3 separate regions of the Homo sapiens genome follow, and all the other regions are linked to region 3. The links come from fine-mapping of genetic effects on gene expression. A gene starts in region 3. Each other region holds a variant in brackets. All regions are shown on one strand. Distances are between the middles of the regions.

Region 1 (5,229 bases), 29 kb before region 3:
CTGCCTAAGTATACTTCCTAGCTCTACCATCTGCTAGCTACATTATCTTGGTCAAATTACTTGAGCCACTCTGTGCCTCAGTTTCTTCATTGATAGAACAGGGTTAATAACAGCATCAAGATCACAGGGCTGTTGTGAGGGTTAAAGCAGATAATCTATATAGAAGCTGAATACACTGCCTGACACAAAAGCACTAGTTTACTGCTGGCTGTATTAGTTAATGTTTAGGCTAACTTGCTGAAATAACTGTTTTAAATAAGAAATGTTTATTTCTCCCCTGTAACAGTTGTGAAGATAGACATGAGTTCATCCAGGGACCCAGCTGGCCATGTCTCTACTTGCCTCTGCATTTAGATTCCATATCTGAGTAACAGGCAGTTGTCTTCAACCACATGGGGTTGAAGTAGCTCACCAGTACCCTGTCCATATTCCAGCCCTGAGTAAGGCAATGTGTGGAGAGTAGGCAAGTTCATTCTTGAGGTCATTAAAGCAGAAGAATGCTGATCACTTCCACTTATATCTCATTAACCAAAACCTAGTTCAAATGGCCACACTGATTTACAAGGGAAGCTGGGAAATGTCTCCAGCTGGGAAGTCATGTGCCCACCCATCATTTTGAGTGAAGAGGGGATCTATTATTTATTTTTATTTTTATTTTTATTGTTGAGATGGAGTTTCGCTCTTGTCGCCCAGGCTGGAGTGCAGTGGCGCGATCTCGGCTCACTGCAACCTTCGCCTCCTTGGTTCAAGCGATTCCCTGCGCCCAGCCAGGGATCTATTATTAAAAGGGAAAAAGGAGGCCTGCTCTAATGACCTCATTTTACTCTAATTACCTCTCTAAAGATCCTGTGTCCAAATACACTCACATTCTTGGGTATTTAAGGACTTCAATATATGAATTTTTGGGGAGACATAATTGGGCACACAGCATGGGTTAAAGAAAGTGGAAATTGTATCCTTTGACTTTTTTTTCTCCACCTTTCTGTGTAAGAAGGAAAGGATATCTTTTGGAAAAAAGATACGGAGAAGAAAATGCCCAGGAATGTGTAGAAGCAAGGATCCTGCATTGTTCTTCTGGTAAGAAGAAAATGAAGGGGATAAAATGGGTCTCTGGGGTACATTGCCTTTAGCTCCAGAAATGTAAATGGGCTCTTAGGCTCCTTCTGTTACAGGCTTACGTTCCTCATCCTAAAGACAAGAATGCCATTAGGGTTATTAGTAAAAGGATGTTTTCATTTTACATTTATGCCTGAACTTAATAAGTTTCCATTTTAAACCAAGAAATAAACTCAGTCAGCACTTTTATTTATTTTATTTTTATTTTTTGAGACAGAATCTTACTCTGTTGCCCAGGCTGCAGTACAGTGGTGTGATCTCGACTCACTGCAACCTCCTCCTCCCGAGTTCAAGTGATTCTCCTGCCTCAGCCTCCCAAGTAACTGGGATTACAGGCATGCACCACCAAGCCCGGCTAATTTTGTTTTTTTAGTAGAGACAGGGTTTCTCCATGTTGGTCAGTCTATTCTTGAACTCCCGACCTCAGGTGATCTGCTCGCCTTGGCCTCCCAAAGTGCTGGGATTATAGACGTGAGCCACTGCACCAGGCCATATTTCTTCTTTTTATTTTTATTTTTTTGAGACAGACTCTCACTTTATCGCCAGGCTGGAGTACAGTGGCTCGATCTCAGCTCACTGCAATCTCTGACTCCCTGGTTCAAGCGATTCTCCTTCCTAGGCCTCCTGAGTAGCTGGGATTACAGGCACGTGCCACCATGCCTGGCTAATTTTTGTGTTTTTAGTAGAGATGGCGTTTCACCACGTTGACCAGGATGGTCTTGATCTCCTGACCTCGTGATCCACCCACCTCGGCCTCCCAAAGTGCTGGGATTACAGCTGTGAGCCACCGTGCCCAGCCATTTTTTGGTATTTCTAGTAGAGACACGGTTTCACCAGGTTGGCCAGGCTGGTCTTGAACTCCTGACCTCAAGTGATCCACCTGCCTTGGCCTCCCAAAGTGCTGGGATTACAGATGTGAGCCACCACGCCCCGTCAGTCAGTATATATATAT[A/T]TTTTTTTAATCAAGGAAATTAACTGTGAGAATACAAGGATAAACAAACCAAGTAATGAATGTCTTCATCACTTTAGTTTTTGGTCATTAGCCAGCGTTTAATCTTTAATTATAAGTTGAGTTTCTGTTCCATGCAACTGAAAAAGATCTAACACAGGTGGAATAACTGAGGAAGACTTCATGGGAGCCATGGGATATAAAGCGGCAGGACAGAGGCAGAGTGTATGTCAAGGGGGAGGGCCTCCTTAGTTGTGACATAGGCATCATAATGAGCACAGTGAGAAGTCTGCCTTTGGATAATGACAATAATTTACACTGGCAGAGTTGTGTAGCAGGGGTCCCGATTTAAGTCTAAGCTCTGTTCCCTCTAGGACTCAGCCATGGGGGCGTCCATCTGGAACACTGGTGGAGTTAGTCCACCGGAGGATATATTCACATAAGGGACAAAATAGCCTTTTGGGAGTCAGAGCGCGTGCATTTGGTTTAAGGCAATGTGAAAAACCGTAAACAATCTCAGATTTCACCCAACTTACAAGCTAAAAAGTTCGCCTGGCACATGGATGCTGGCAGAAGATATCATAGTCCTGAGCCAGAATGAAGAGTTTCTTACTCACAGCAATAGCCATAGCAATAGCCAGAGTATCAGTTTTGTGGTTTGTTTTTGGCATTAGTTAGCAAAGTCCCAATTTCCATAGGGAGAGGCAAAGAAGGCCAGATGGCATCTGCCCTTGCAGTGGGCTGCTTTACAGAAGGGGAACCTTCAGCTTCAGGAGCCTGAATCTTTTATAGTGGCAATAAACTTGCTTGCCCTTTGCTCTGGAAAACCTTATTCCTATCCTCTAAGACTGTTTGCTCTACAAACATCCCTGAAGAGAGAGTCCTGAAAGAAGGGCAGTCAGTGCTTCACTCACCAGATGTGCAGAAATGCACAGAGATCATGAAGAATGATCTCTGCCTAGGCCAGTGTTTGAGTGAAAGGATAATTCCGAGGGTCTGTCCTGGTAACCTCTCACCCATTCTAGCTCATACAGATTCACACCAGAGTTCTAATTTAAGGGGGTTGTAATTTAAGGGGGCTGTGATAAAAAAGTAAAAACTAAAGGGACTGTTTCATTGAAATCCTGTTCCATCACTGAGAGTGCAAGAAATTAGTATCACTGGTATCATTTATTTTGACAAAGCTAATGAATGTGGCTTTGGTACCAAGAGGAGGCATTACCACATCTATAAGCACATTATCACAGTGGCCTGGACTGAAGAGGAGGAGAGTAGAAGATACCACCTCTTACTTAAAATGATACGTTCATGGATGCTTGTGATATTACAACATTAGCCTGAAGTTTAAGTTTCCAAGAAATAATTTTAAGTCTCTAAGGAATTTAGAATGATAAAGTTCCATCGGTACTTGATGACTTTTGGACTATCCTCAAAAAACCCAATCAAATTTCCATCAACGGTTAGTGATTTCTCAACTATCCCCAAATATCCCCAAATAATACTCTTTAATACAAATAGTATTAAAGGGCAGTTTCTTAATCTTTTTTCCACATTATCACAAAGAATGGATGATGTTTATCTGTATGATGTATTTCCATGGATGTACTCAAATTTGGGGAAAAAAGGAAAAAAAAAAAAACACCCTGCAACAATTTTATTAGTAAATGAAGAAAATAATACTACAAAATCATTTTGTTAAATATTCACTTAAGGCTGGGCATCATGGTGGCTCATGCCTATAAACCCAGCACTTTGGGAGGCCGAGGCAGGGGGATCACTTGAGCCCATGAGTTCGAGACTACCCTGGGCAACATAGTGAGACCCCATCTCTACAAAAATTAAAAATTAAAAAAATTATTCTGGTGTAATGGTAAGTGCTTGTAGTTCCAGCTACTAGGGAGGCTCAGGCGGGAGGATGCTTGAACCTGGGAAGTCTTGGCTGCAGTGAGCTCTGATAATGCCACTGCACTCCAGCCTGGGCAACAGAGTGAGACTGTTTCAAAAAAAGAAAAGCCTTGGGTCCAGTGGCTCACACCTATAATCCCAACTCTATGAGAGGCTAAGGTGGGAGGATCACTTAAGCCCAGGAGTTCAAGATCCGCCTAGGCAACAAGCGAGACACTGCCTCTATAAAACATAAAAAATTAGCTGGGCAGGCGTACACCTGCAGTCCCAGCTACTTGGGAAGCTGAAGTTGGGGGGGAGGATCACTTGAGCCCAGAAAGCTGTGGCTGCAGTGAGCTGTGTTCGCACCAATGCACTTCAACCAGGATGACAGAGTGAGACCCTGTCAAACAAAACAAAAAACAAAAAGAAAAACAAAAGATGTTCACTTAATGTTAAGAATTCAACAATAGTGAAATCAGTTATGTAAGAATTGCCAAAATGTAGCATATCTAATTTTTAAATATCATGATTTCTCCCCCAGCCTTTACTCACAACACCAATAAAACAAGTACACATTATTTGAAAAGGCATAAAATTTATTGTTAAAAACATAAAATTGGTAGATTCCCTCCATGTTATTGATATAAGGAATATTTTCACTTTCCTTTGAGAGTTTTCACTTGGCTATCATAACTGTTAGGACCCTACTAACAATGTTCAGAGACTACTGTTTTTGTGTACTGTAGATGTTGATGCACTCATTCACAATTTTCTCTTCTGTGGGTATGGGTGAAGTTTCCTTTATTTATTGATTTTTTTAGAGATGGGGGTCTTGCTTTGTTGCCCATGCTGGAGTGCAGTGGCATGATCATACCTCACTGCTGTCCCGAACTCCTGGGCTCAAGCAATCCTCCCGCCCCATGGGTGAAGTTTTAAAAAGTGAATTTGAAATACAAAAGTAATTCAAAATGGCCATAAAAGTAGGCTGTGGTTTATGTATAACTCCCTGCATGGAACTCCTTTCTCTCTCAGGAAATTATATTGGAATGCATGTGAGAAAGTGATTTCTAAAATGCCTCATAATGGTCTGTGTGGGTATACATACATATACACAGATAAATAATTCAAAACTTTGGTACCTTATTGTAGATGTTTGTTCCTTGAACATCTTGCATACCAAGATAAATTATTTTGGATCACCTAATATCAAAAAGTGACATACCCAAACCAAACCAAAACAAAAAAACAAAATGTGGATAGGCATGGTAGCTGACGCC
Region 2 (5,229 bases), 210 kb before region 3:
AGTAGCTCGGACTACAGGCGCATGCCACCACGTCTGGCTAATTTTTTGTATTTTTTTTAGTAGAGACGGGGTTTCACTGTGTTGGCCAGGATGGTTTCAAACTCCTGACCTCAGCTGATCCACCCGCCTTGGCCTCCCAAAGTGCTGGGATTACAGGCGTGAGCCATCGCTCCTGGCCCTGTGATTTCTTACAAAAGTGTTCTGTAGTTCTCCTTGTAGAGATCTTTCATCTCCTTGGTCGTATTCCCAGGTATTTTATTCTTTTGTGGATATTGTAAATGGGATTGTATTCTTGAGTTGGCTCTAATTTTTAACATAATTGTTGTGTAGAAATGCTACTGATTTTTGTACATTTAATCTTGTATCCTGAAACTTTACTAAAGCCATTTTCCAGTTCCAGGAGTCTTTTAGCAGAGTCTTTAGAGTTTTCTAGGTATAGAATCATATCGTCTGCAAAGAGAGATAGTTTGACTTTTTCTTTTCCTATCTGAATGTCTTTCTTTCTTTCTTTTGCCTGACTGCTCTGGCTAGTATTTCCAGTACTATGTTGAATAGGAGTGGTGAGAGTGGGGATTCTCGGTGAGAGTGGGTATCCTTGTCTTGTTCTCAAGGGGAATGCTTCCAGTTTTTGCCTGTTTAGCATGACGTTGGCTGTGGGTTTCTCAGAGATGGCTCATTACTTTAATGTATGTTCCTTTGATGCCTCTAGCCTGTTGAGGGTTTTTTAATCATGAAACGATGTTAGATTTTATCAAAAGCTTTTTCCAAGTCTAATGAGATGATTATACGGTTTTTGTTTTCAATTCTGTTTATGTGGTGAATCACATTTATTGATTTGCATATGTTGAGCTAACATTGCATCACAGGAATGAAGCCTCCTTGATCATGGTGAGTTAACTTTTTGATGTGCTATTGGATTTGGTTTGCTCGTATTTTGTTGAGGGTTTTTGCGTCTGTATTCATTAGGAATACTGGCCTGTCGTTGTCTTGTTTCCTTGCGTCTTTGCCAGGTTTGGTATCAGGGTGGTGCTGGCTTCATAGAATGTATTAGGAGGGAGTCCCTCCTCCTCAATTTTTTGGAATAGTTTCAGTAGAATTGATACCAGCCCTTCTTTGTACGTCTGGAGAATTCAGCTGTGAATCCATCTGGTCCTGGGCTTTTTTGATTGGTAGATTTTTTTATTACTGTTTCAATATTGGAATTCAATATTGGTCTGTTTGGGGTTTCAATTTCTTCCTGATTCAATCTTGGGAGTTTGTGCATTTCCAAGAATTTATCCATTTCTTCTAGGTTTTCTAGTTTACGTGTGTAGAGATGTGCACAGGAGTCTCTGAGGATCTTTTGTATTTCTTTGGAATCAGTTGTAATGGCACCTTTGTCGTTTCTGATTGTGCTTATTCTAAACTTATTTCTAAGCAGGGCTGAAAGGAGGCAATATTAGCCCCAACTACTAATATTATTCAGTAAAAAGCATTTTATTCCTTAATCAATAGGGGCTTACTCTAAAAAGTAAATACTTGGGGAGAAAAAAGTCTTTTTAAAATTATTCATAGTTAAATGGAAAATATTTAATTAGATAATCACTTTTCTCCACACTTAATAGCTAATAGTAGTTGTTTTGCTGGGGAATGTGAGGAAGAGGGCTACAATAAATTGGGAGTACTAAAATCTCCAGGAGTGGCCAGACTGAGCTGGGCATCAGAGGGGGATTACTGTCACTTAAAGGGCATGGTGGGCACATTACAATTTGTCCTGGTACTTCACATGGCAGTAGCCAATCCCTTGAGAGTTTGGTAAGGTTCCCTAGTAACTGAATTTTGTCTAGCTTGTCCCAGTGGCACAGCAAGCACAGCCAGGAGAAATGTGGTGGATTGTATATGGTAAACGCAAAGATGAACTTCCTGATTATAAGGATGAGAAACACTGGAACCAGCTCCTTAGAGAGAGGGAGTTTGTAGAATCTGTATCCTGGAAGAAGTGGCTCTCTCACAGGAAAAAGTTCTTTGATAGAAGGTAGCTTTGTGGAGTGTGTACACTTAACTGGACATGACTGAAGATAGTAGGGGAGGATGAGCTTTGCTTTGAATGAGAAGCAAAGGAGTTGCCCTTTTTTTTTTTTTTTTTTTTTTGAGACAGAGTTTTGCTCTTGTTGCCCAGGCTGGAGTGCAATGGTGCGACCTAGGCTCACCGCAACTTCCGCCTCCTGGGTTCAAGTGATTCTCCTGTCTCAGCCTCCTGAGTAGCTGGGATTACAGGCGCCCGCCACCATGCCCAGCTAATTTTGTATTTTTAGTAGAGACGGTTTCTCCATGTTGGTCAGGCTGGTCTCGAACTCCCGACCTCAGGTGATCTGCCCACCTCGGCCTCTCA[A/G]AGTGTTGGGATTACAGGCGTGAGCCACCGTGCCAGGCCAGGAGTTGTTAAAAATGAAATACCATGAGTAAAGTATTCATTTCTGTCCAAAGCAAAAAAAGACCCTATCACATTACAAATGATTTTTATTCTGCAAGAGATCTAGTAAACAGACCATCTAGAGAACCTTACAGTTCAGGCTTACAGATCTACTCATATTTCCTTTTAATGGGCAATTTCTTGTAATTGTTTTTGATAACAAAAGTACTTCCAACTGGAAACTGGTAAAGAACAGGCTAATTTGGGGGAACTGCATACTCCTAAAATACACCTTTATGATTTCTCTAAACTCCCATGTTGCCCTCAACAGTTTATAAGCATATGACAGGAAAATAGGGGAACTATGAGGAATGTGGGTGGGGAGCCCAGTATAGCACAAACACCTGGATCTTGTTCACTTCATTCACTGATCATTAGCCCACTGCCAGCAACATCCTTCTGTCCAGATATTATCACAGCATCCTCTTCTTTACTTACTAAAATGTGAATACCTACAACACACTCAACAAAGAATTCAATTGAACTAATACTTTCACATCTTATCCTCATTTGAAAGCACATTAATATTATTGTACTTCAGTTTCTACATATGTAAAATTGGTGTGCTGGAGGAGTTTGAACAAACTAGATGATCTATGAAGTCTCTTTCAATTCTAAGATTATAAGTTTCCTTTTTTTTATTATTTTTCAGACGGACTCTCACTCTGTCACCCAGGCTGGAGTGCAGTAGCACAATCTCGGCTCACTGCAACCTATGCCTCGCGGGTTCAAGCAGTTCTCTACCACAGCCTCCCGAATAGCTGGGATTACAAGTGCCCACCACCACGCGCGGCTAATTTTTGTGTTTTTAGTAGAGACGGGGTTTCACCATCTTGGCCAGGCTGGTCTTGAACTCCTGACCTTGTGATCCACCCGCCTCGGCCTCCCAAAGTGCTGGGATTACAGGCGTGAGCCACCGCGCCTGGCCAAGATTATAAGTTTCTGTAGTCTTTCCAGGCTGACAGTGCTGCTTTTGGACTATGGAGTTAGAACTGGCTCTGCCACTTTCTTAGTGAGCGACTTTGGGGAGGTTGCCTAATCCCCTTTGGAAACAGTTTCCTCATGTCATTGCTATCATTATCACGCCCACTTGGTGCACTTTGTTGGCCAAGTTACTTAACTTGAGATGCTGTGGATGGGATTAAGAATGCACAAAGGTTGGCCGGGCGCGGTAGCTCATACCTGTAATCCCAGCACTTTGGGAGGCCGAGACGGGCAGATCACGAGGTCAGGAGATCGAGACCATCCTGGCTAACACGATGAAACCCCGTTTCTACTAAAAATACAAAAAATTAGCTGGGCGTTGTGGCGGGTGCCTGTAGTCCCAGCTACTCCGGAGGCTGAGGCAGGAGAATGGCGTGAACCCGGGAGGCAGAGCTTGCAGTGAGCCGAGATTGCGCCACTGCACTTCAGCCTGGGCAACAGAGCAAGACTCCGTCTCAAAACACACACACACACACACACACACACACACACACACACACACACACACACACACACAAAGGTTGAGCATCCCTAATTTGAAATCCAAAATTCTCCAAAGTCTGATACACCTGACCCCAAGTGATGGATCACAGTAAAAATGCAGGCATACAACACAGAGTTTATTCAATGTCTCCAAGGGAAAAAAGACCCTTCCACCCCAGTTCAGCTGCAATATATATTTTCTGTGCATGACCAAATTCCTCCATGAAAGCACACCCATAAAACGTAATAAAATAGCACATGTGCAGACTGGATGTGCCAACAGCCGGTTCCCCAAAATGCCCTACATGTAGTAAAGACCTACATGCATTGCTCCTTGTGTTTTCTTGTTTATTTTCTACCCTGTGGTGTAAAGATGTTGCTGAAAAAATGTTCAAAAGGCCTGCAGATACCAACAAAAGAGGAAGCATTTATGTTTATAGGATAGCACAGAAAGTCAAGCTGTTGGAGAAACTGGACAGTGGTGCGAATGTGAAACATCTTAATAGAAGAGTATGGTGTCAGAATGACCACCATATATGACCTGAAACAATAGAAGGATAAACAGTTGGAGTTCTATGCTAAAAATAATGAATAAAAATTAGTAAAAACAGAAAAACACTGCATAAAACTAAAAATAATGGTCTTGATCATGTATTGAAAAATTGGATCGGTCAGCGATGCAGTGAACACTTGCCACTTAATGTCATGCTGATAATGAAATGAGCAAAGACTTATGATGAACTGGAAATTGAAGGGAACTGTGAATATTCAATATATCTGGCTGCATACATTTAAGACACAACATTATTTTTTTTACAATTTGAGGTGATAAAGCATCTGCTGATCATAAAGCAGCAATGATTGATGAGCGTGCCCAAGTTATCACTGATGAAAATCTGACACCAGAACAAGTCTATAATGCTTATAAAACATCACTGTTTTGTGTTACTGCCCCAGGAAGACACTGACTACAGCTGATGAGAAAGCCCCTATAGGAATTAAGGATGCCAAGGACAGAATAACTGTACTGGGATATGCTAATGCAGCACACAAACACATTGTAAACTTGCTGTGACAGGCAAAAGCTTATGTCTTCACTATTTTAAGGGAGTGGATTTCTTACCAGACTATTATTATGCTAACAAAAGTGCACAGATCACCAGGGACATATTTTCTGATTGGTGCTCCAATGTTTTGTACCAGAAGTTCATGCTCACTGCAGGGAAGCTAAACTGGAGGATGACTGCAAGATTTTGTTACACGTGACAACTGTTCTATTCACCCTCCTGCTGAAATTCTCATCAAAAATGTTT
Region 3 (5,229 bases):
CTAACAAGTGAAGCAGCCTGACTAAGGTCACGAAACTAGTGCGTTAGCAGATGATTTCCAGCCTAATCCACTCAGTCCACTCTCCCACCAATGCTAATTTTCTTGAAGACATCTGCTGCCAGTCAATTCCAATTAGAAAGTTTTCATGTTACATATTAAATACTGTTATTACTTTAAAAAATTTGAGGCACATAAAAATAAGTCCATAAACCAATATTAAATTTGACTCCAAAACATTCTTTTTTTTTTTTTTGAGATGGAGTCTTACTCTGTCACCCAGGCTGGAGTGCAGTGGCACGATCTCAGCTCACTGCAACCTCCACCTCCAGGGGTCAAGCGAGTCTTTTGTCTTAGCCTCCCGAGGAGCTGGGACTACAAGCACGCACCACCACGCCTGGCTAATTTTTTTTGTATTTTTAGTAGAGACGGGGTTGCACCATGTCAGTCAGGCTGGTTTCAAACTCCTGACCTCAGGTGATCCACCCATCACCGCCTCCTAAAGTCTTGGGATTACATGCGTGAGCCACCCACCACTCTTGGCCGAAAAAAAAAAAATTCTTAAAAATATTCTTAAAAAAATGAGTAAATAGGCACTGTCGCCCCGGGTGGAGTGCAATGGCACGAACTCAGCTTACTGCAACCTCTGCCTTACAGATTCAAGGGATTCTTCTGCCTCAGCCTCCAGAGTAGCTGGGACTACAGGCGCATGCCACTACGCCCAGCTAATTATGTATTTTTAGTAGAGGCAGGGTTTCACTATGTTGGCCAGGCTGGTCTCGAACTCCTGACATTGTGATCTGCCCGCCTTGGCCTCCCAAAGTGCTGGGATTACAGGTATGAGCCACCGCGCCCGGCCACATTCCTTATCTTTTAAGCTAAAACCCATCTCCCCAAATTGCTTATTTTCGAAGCAAAAATCAAAGCACATGCTTACAAAACATCGAACACGCAGTGTGCTTACTAAACGCTAAAATACAGAAACCTAAAAAAACAATTCTTGCTTTTCAAACATCCATAAATAATCGCCAACGAATTTTTCCTGGCAAGTCTACGTTATAATAATAATAATATTATTATTATTATTATTATTTTTTGAGACGGAGTCTTGCCCTGTCGCCCAAGCTGGAGTGCAGTGGCGCAGTCTCGGCTCACTGCAACCTCCGCCTCCTGGGTTCAAGCGATTCTCCTGCCCCAGCCTCCCCAGTAGCTGGGATTACAGGTGCGCGCTTCCATGCCCAGCTAATTTTTGCATTTTTAGTAGAGACGGGGTTTCACCATGTTGGTCAGGCTGGTCTCGAACTTCTGACCTCGTGATCCGCCCGCCCCGGTCTCCCAAAGTGCTGGGATTACAGGTGTGAGCCACCGCGCCCGGCTATAATAATTATTATAAAATTCAAATCTTAAGGCCGCACATGGTGGCTCACGCCTGTAATCCCAGCACTTTGGGAAGCGGAGGTGGGCCGCTCACCTGAGATCAGGAGTTCGAGTCCAGCCTGGCCAACATGGTGAAACCCCGTCTCTAATAAACACAAAAATTAGCCAAGCATGGTGCCGGACGCCTGTAGTCCCTGTTACTGGGGAGGCTGAGGCAGGAGAATCGCTTGAATCTGGGAGGCGGAGGTTGCGGTGAGCCGAGATCGCGCCACGGCACTCCAGCCTCGACAACAGAGCAAAACTCCGTCCCAATAAATAAATAAATAAATAAAATAAAAATCTTAAGGGTCTAGTCACAACAGTTCAAAAGTCTCCAAAGGGAGACTCTCACCTTCAAGCTTGTAAGTAATACTAAAGTTCTAGATTTGCTGGAAGTTATCTCCTTCAATGGATTACAGCACATGATCTAGCAATAATAACGTACCTTGTCACCACATCGAATGATTTTGAACACTTCCCATCAATCGACTACCGACTAACAAAAAGAAGGACTTGATTCCCGGCAATTTTTTCTCTTCTGAACTGAGCATTCCCGAAATCCAGCTTGCTGAACGCGCAGATGCAGGGTGAGAGGCACCCCAGGAAAAATGGAAGGGAAAGTGGTACAAGTTAAAACAGTCTTCGTGGCCGCAGAGACGATCGCTACCTCGGCCATGGCAGATCTGGGGGTCCGGGGCGGGGGTTCTTCCCTGATACCCACCGGGCACGCGAGTTCACGCCAGCGACAGTGGAAAGCCCTCCCCTCGCAGCGCGCTCCGCCACTAGCCGCACCCCGCCGAGCTCTGACCTCCGAAGAGGGTCCCTGTGGCGATCCCGCCCCTTCGTCTGATGTTTGTGCCTTTGATTGGCTCTTAGGTGGATCCCTCAGCGTGGCTTGCCCAATGGAGCAATGCCGGCTGGTGGCCTGGCCGCTCCGCCCCTTCCCTACCCCTCGCGGAGGGCCCGCCCCCTGCCCCGCGCCGGCTAGCGGAGGAGAGTAAATACAACAGGAGCGCAAAATGGCGGAACCGCCGAGCCCCGTGCACTGTGTCGCTGCCGCGGCCCCCACCGCCACCGTCTCGGAGAAAGAACCGTTTGGCAAGCTGCAACTCTCCTCCCGGGACCCTCCGGGTTCTCTGTCCGCCAAGAAGGTCCGGACTGAGGAGAAGAAGGCACCGCGGAGAGTGAACGGAGAAGGGGGCAGCGGCGGGAACAGCAGGCAGCTGCAGCCGCCGGCAGCACCTTCGCCTCAGAGCTATGGCAGCCCCGCGTCTTGGAGCTTTGCCCCTCTGTCTGCTGCTCCCTCCCCGTCCTCTTCTCGGAGCAGTTTCTCTTTCTCCGCTGGCACGGCCGTTCCCTCCTCAGCCTCCGCTTCCTTGTCTCAGCCGGTGCCGCGCAAACTGCTGGTCCCTCCTACGCTGCTGCACGCTCAGCCTCACCATCTCCTCCTGCCCGCCGCCGCCGCCGCTGCCTCGGCTAACGCCAAGTCGCGCAGACCTAAGGAGAAGCGGGAGAAGGAGAGGAGGAGGCACGGTCTCGGTGGGGCCCGAGAGGCCGGCGGGGCCTCCCGGGAGGAGAACGGGGAGGTGAAGCCGCTGCCCCGAGGTGGGTGCCGTGCGGGGAGGGGGAGGGGAGGGCGCCGTGGGTCCCCGCCGCCCCCTGGCGCCCACGGGGCCCGGGAAGGGGGAGCGCGGCGGCCGCGTGCGCCGGCCTGGAGGGGCTGGGAGGCGTCCGGTTTTCAGCAGAGGATTTTGCAGTTCCCAAGGGGACAGGAAATGGAGCCTGTAATTTCGGTTGCAGAGAGGGGGATGGCCGACACTCTTATTTTCTGTATCGTTTCTTCCTCCCAGTTAGTGCGCTGCAGGATTTGTGAAAATCCATCTTGAGGACTCTCCTAGGTTTGTTTGGCTAGGGAGAGAGATGGAGGGAACGGGATGGGGGAAGGGTTTGGTTTTGTAAAAGATGCTTGATTGATTGTTAGACCACTTAGACGTGGTCGCGGGAATTCGTATTTGTGACACAGCGTTCAACCCCGGATAATCCTGTCAAAAAAGGGGTGTGGAGAGAGCACTGGCGTCAGCTGGAAGCTACCAGAGGCCTGAGCTTTTCATCCCTATTAGGGAAATGAGGTAGCGTGCAGGGCCCGAAGTGCGCTGTTTCGTAAGGTACCCTCCCTGCACCCTACTCTCCGCTGCGTATTCTTAAGTGTTTTGGGTGGTCCTGTTTGAAATACCACCCTTCTGAAAGAATTTTCAGCCATATTCTTTTTTTCCCTGCAGCAAATGATAAAACCAGGAGCTTTGACGATTTTTCGCCAGATCAAGCGGCTGCAGAATGTTTGAGCATTAGAAAAAGGCGAATTCTTAAGGGTTCTTGTCAGACAGGGTCAGTTTTGTTTTTAAATGTAGGCTAGTCGTATAATTTTTCAGGTGTTTCCACCACTTCAGCTACGGATACACAATGATCTGACAATAGTGCAACATACGGACTAGTTGAAAATCAAATCTTTATGTGATCGCAAGCTTAAAGCGCATAATCTTTATTATAAATGTGCACTGCTACACAGTGTTGTCAAATAACTCTTTTTGTTTTTTAGAAAAAGAAATGTCAAGCAGTTTCAGCATTGCTGATCTAACAGTAGCTCAGATCATGAAAAATTCTGTTTGGATTATAATGGTTTGTTTTCACAACTTAAAACATGCTGCATGTGCATGTAGCAATAGTGTCACTTCTTCCTTGATATTTTTTGCCTGTAGCAAAGCTTTAACATCTAAGCATAGCCATCAGGGACTCTGGTGCAATGTAAATATCTTTCAGCTTCTGGGAGTGTTGTTTCTAGGAAAGTGGTTTTGAGGATGGGATTTTGGTACTTTTAGTCAGGAATTCCAGGTGATTAGTATTTTAAAGCTATTTTGTTTTAACAATTTATATGTAAAATTTAGGAGATAAGTGCCTGGAAGTTTGTCCATATGCAGCTTGGTATCATCACTAGTGTTTGTGGTGTGTAAACTGCACATTTGCTGTAAGTTCTCTGAAAGAGGAAGTGAATATGAGTATTACATAGTTGGAGTAATGGAATATTTGAGAAGAAATAAGTAAGCATTCTTTAACAATTCTAACTTAAAATGTGGAGTACACAAATGGTCCTTAAAGTGAAATGGCTGTTAAAGAGGAATTTTTATAGTCTTTTCAATTACATTTAGAATCCTTCTTCTTTTGAGGGTTAACACTAATATTATTAATCCTGAATATAAACAGTGATAGGTTTTACATTAAGATGTGGGAATGATCTTTTCCCATGACCTATGTGGGTTTTTTGGAGTAGTGACAAGATATTAACACTACTGTAAGATTTTCATTTTTTCAGACACAAATGCTATCTTGTTGAGGAAAAACTATCAGAGAAAAAGATTCCTTTCCAGTGTCTTGGTGGTAAATTTAATGGTGAAAATTTTTCCCTCGTAACTTGGGGAATACTTATATCTTTCTAAAGTTTGGATTTAACTGAATTGATGTTCTGTTTTAACGAATTAAGAAGATTCTTAAATAGCGGTATTAACAAGTGGTATAGCAAGAATACATATATGCCTTTATTATAGATATAATTGCAAATATGAAAGTCCTGATTTGCAATACAATGATCATTTCTCTGTGCTTTTTGTAAAAATCTTAGTGAATGGGTGACCAAGTGTTTGTTTAGGTATATACCTCTTTTTAGTGTTGCCCTAAGTTGGCTGTGCATGGTTCAGTAACCCCTCAATTATCCACAGCTGGCTGATTGAACAGTCTGAGTCAGAACCAGACATTAGCTATAAA

Direction of the effects. Alleles are on the strand shown, and positions count from the first base shown. SD is a standard deviation of normalised expression in the study named. Not every link is listed here.
For the expression in amygdala of the gene that starts at base 2,228 in region 3, T is the low allele of the variant in region 1 and A is the other (large effect, 0.86 SD a copy in GTEx).

The links. PIP is the estimated chance that this variant, and not a neighbour inherited with it, causes the effect. A credible set is the group of variants that fine-mapping cannot tell apart.
Region 1: its variant is the best candidate, but not a certain one, in a credible set for the expression of APTR in amygdala (GTEx, PIP 0.75).
Region 2: its variant is the best candidate, but not a certain one, in a credible set for the expression of APTR in whole blood (TOPMed, PIP 0.88).

The regions. Positions count from the first base shown.
Region 1 is chr7:77,664,992-77,670,220 of GRCh38, forward strand. All of the region lies in intron 1 of APTR (Alu-mediated CDKN1A/p21 transcriptional regulator), which reads right to left. Among named protein-coding and RNA genes, the nearest start is that of APTR, 29 kb to the right of the region's middle. The variant A/T (reference allele first, on the strand shown) is at 2,069.
Region 2 is chr7:77,484,146-77,489,374 of GRCh38, forward strand. No RefSeq gene overlaps it. Among named protein-coding and RNA genes, the nearest start is that of PTPN12, 51 kb to the right of the region's middle. The variant A/G (reference allele first, on the strand shown) is at 2,372.
Region 3 is chr7:77,694,038-77,699,266 of GRCh38, forward strand. It overlaps APTR (Alu-mediated CDKN1A/p21 transcriptional regulator), which reads right to left and starts at 2,228. Exons shown (of 2, transcript NR_134254.1): 1 at 1,859-2,228. RSBN1L (round spermatid basic protein 1 like) reads left to right here and starts at 2,422. Exons shown (of 8, transcript NM_198467.3): 1 at 2,422-3,018. The coding sequence starts at 2,433. RefSeq lists enhancers at 1,517-2,412, 2,413-3,308, 2,493-2,722 and silencers at 2,243-2,462, 2,933-3,252, 3,543-3,642.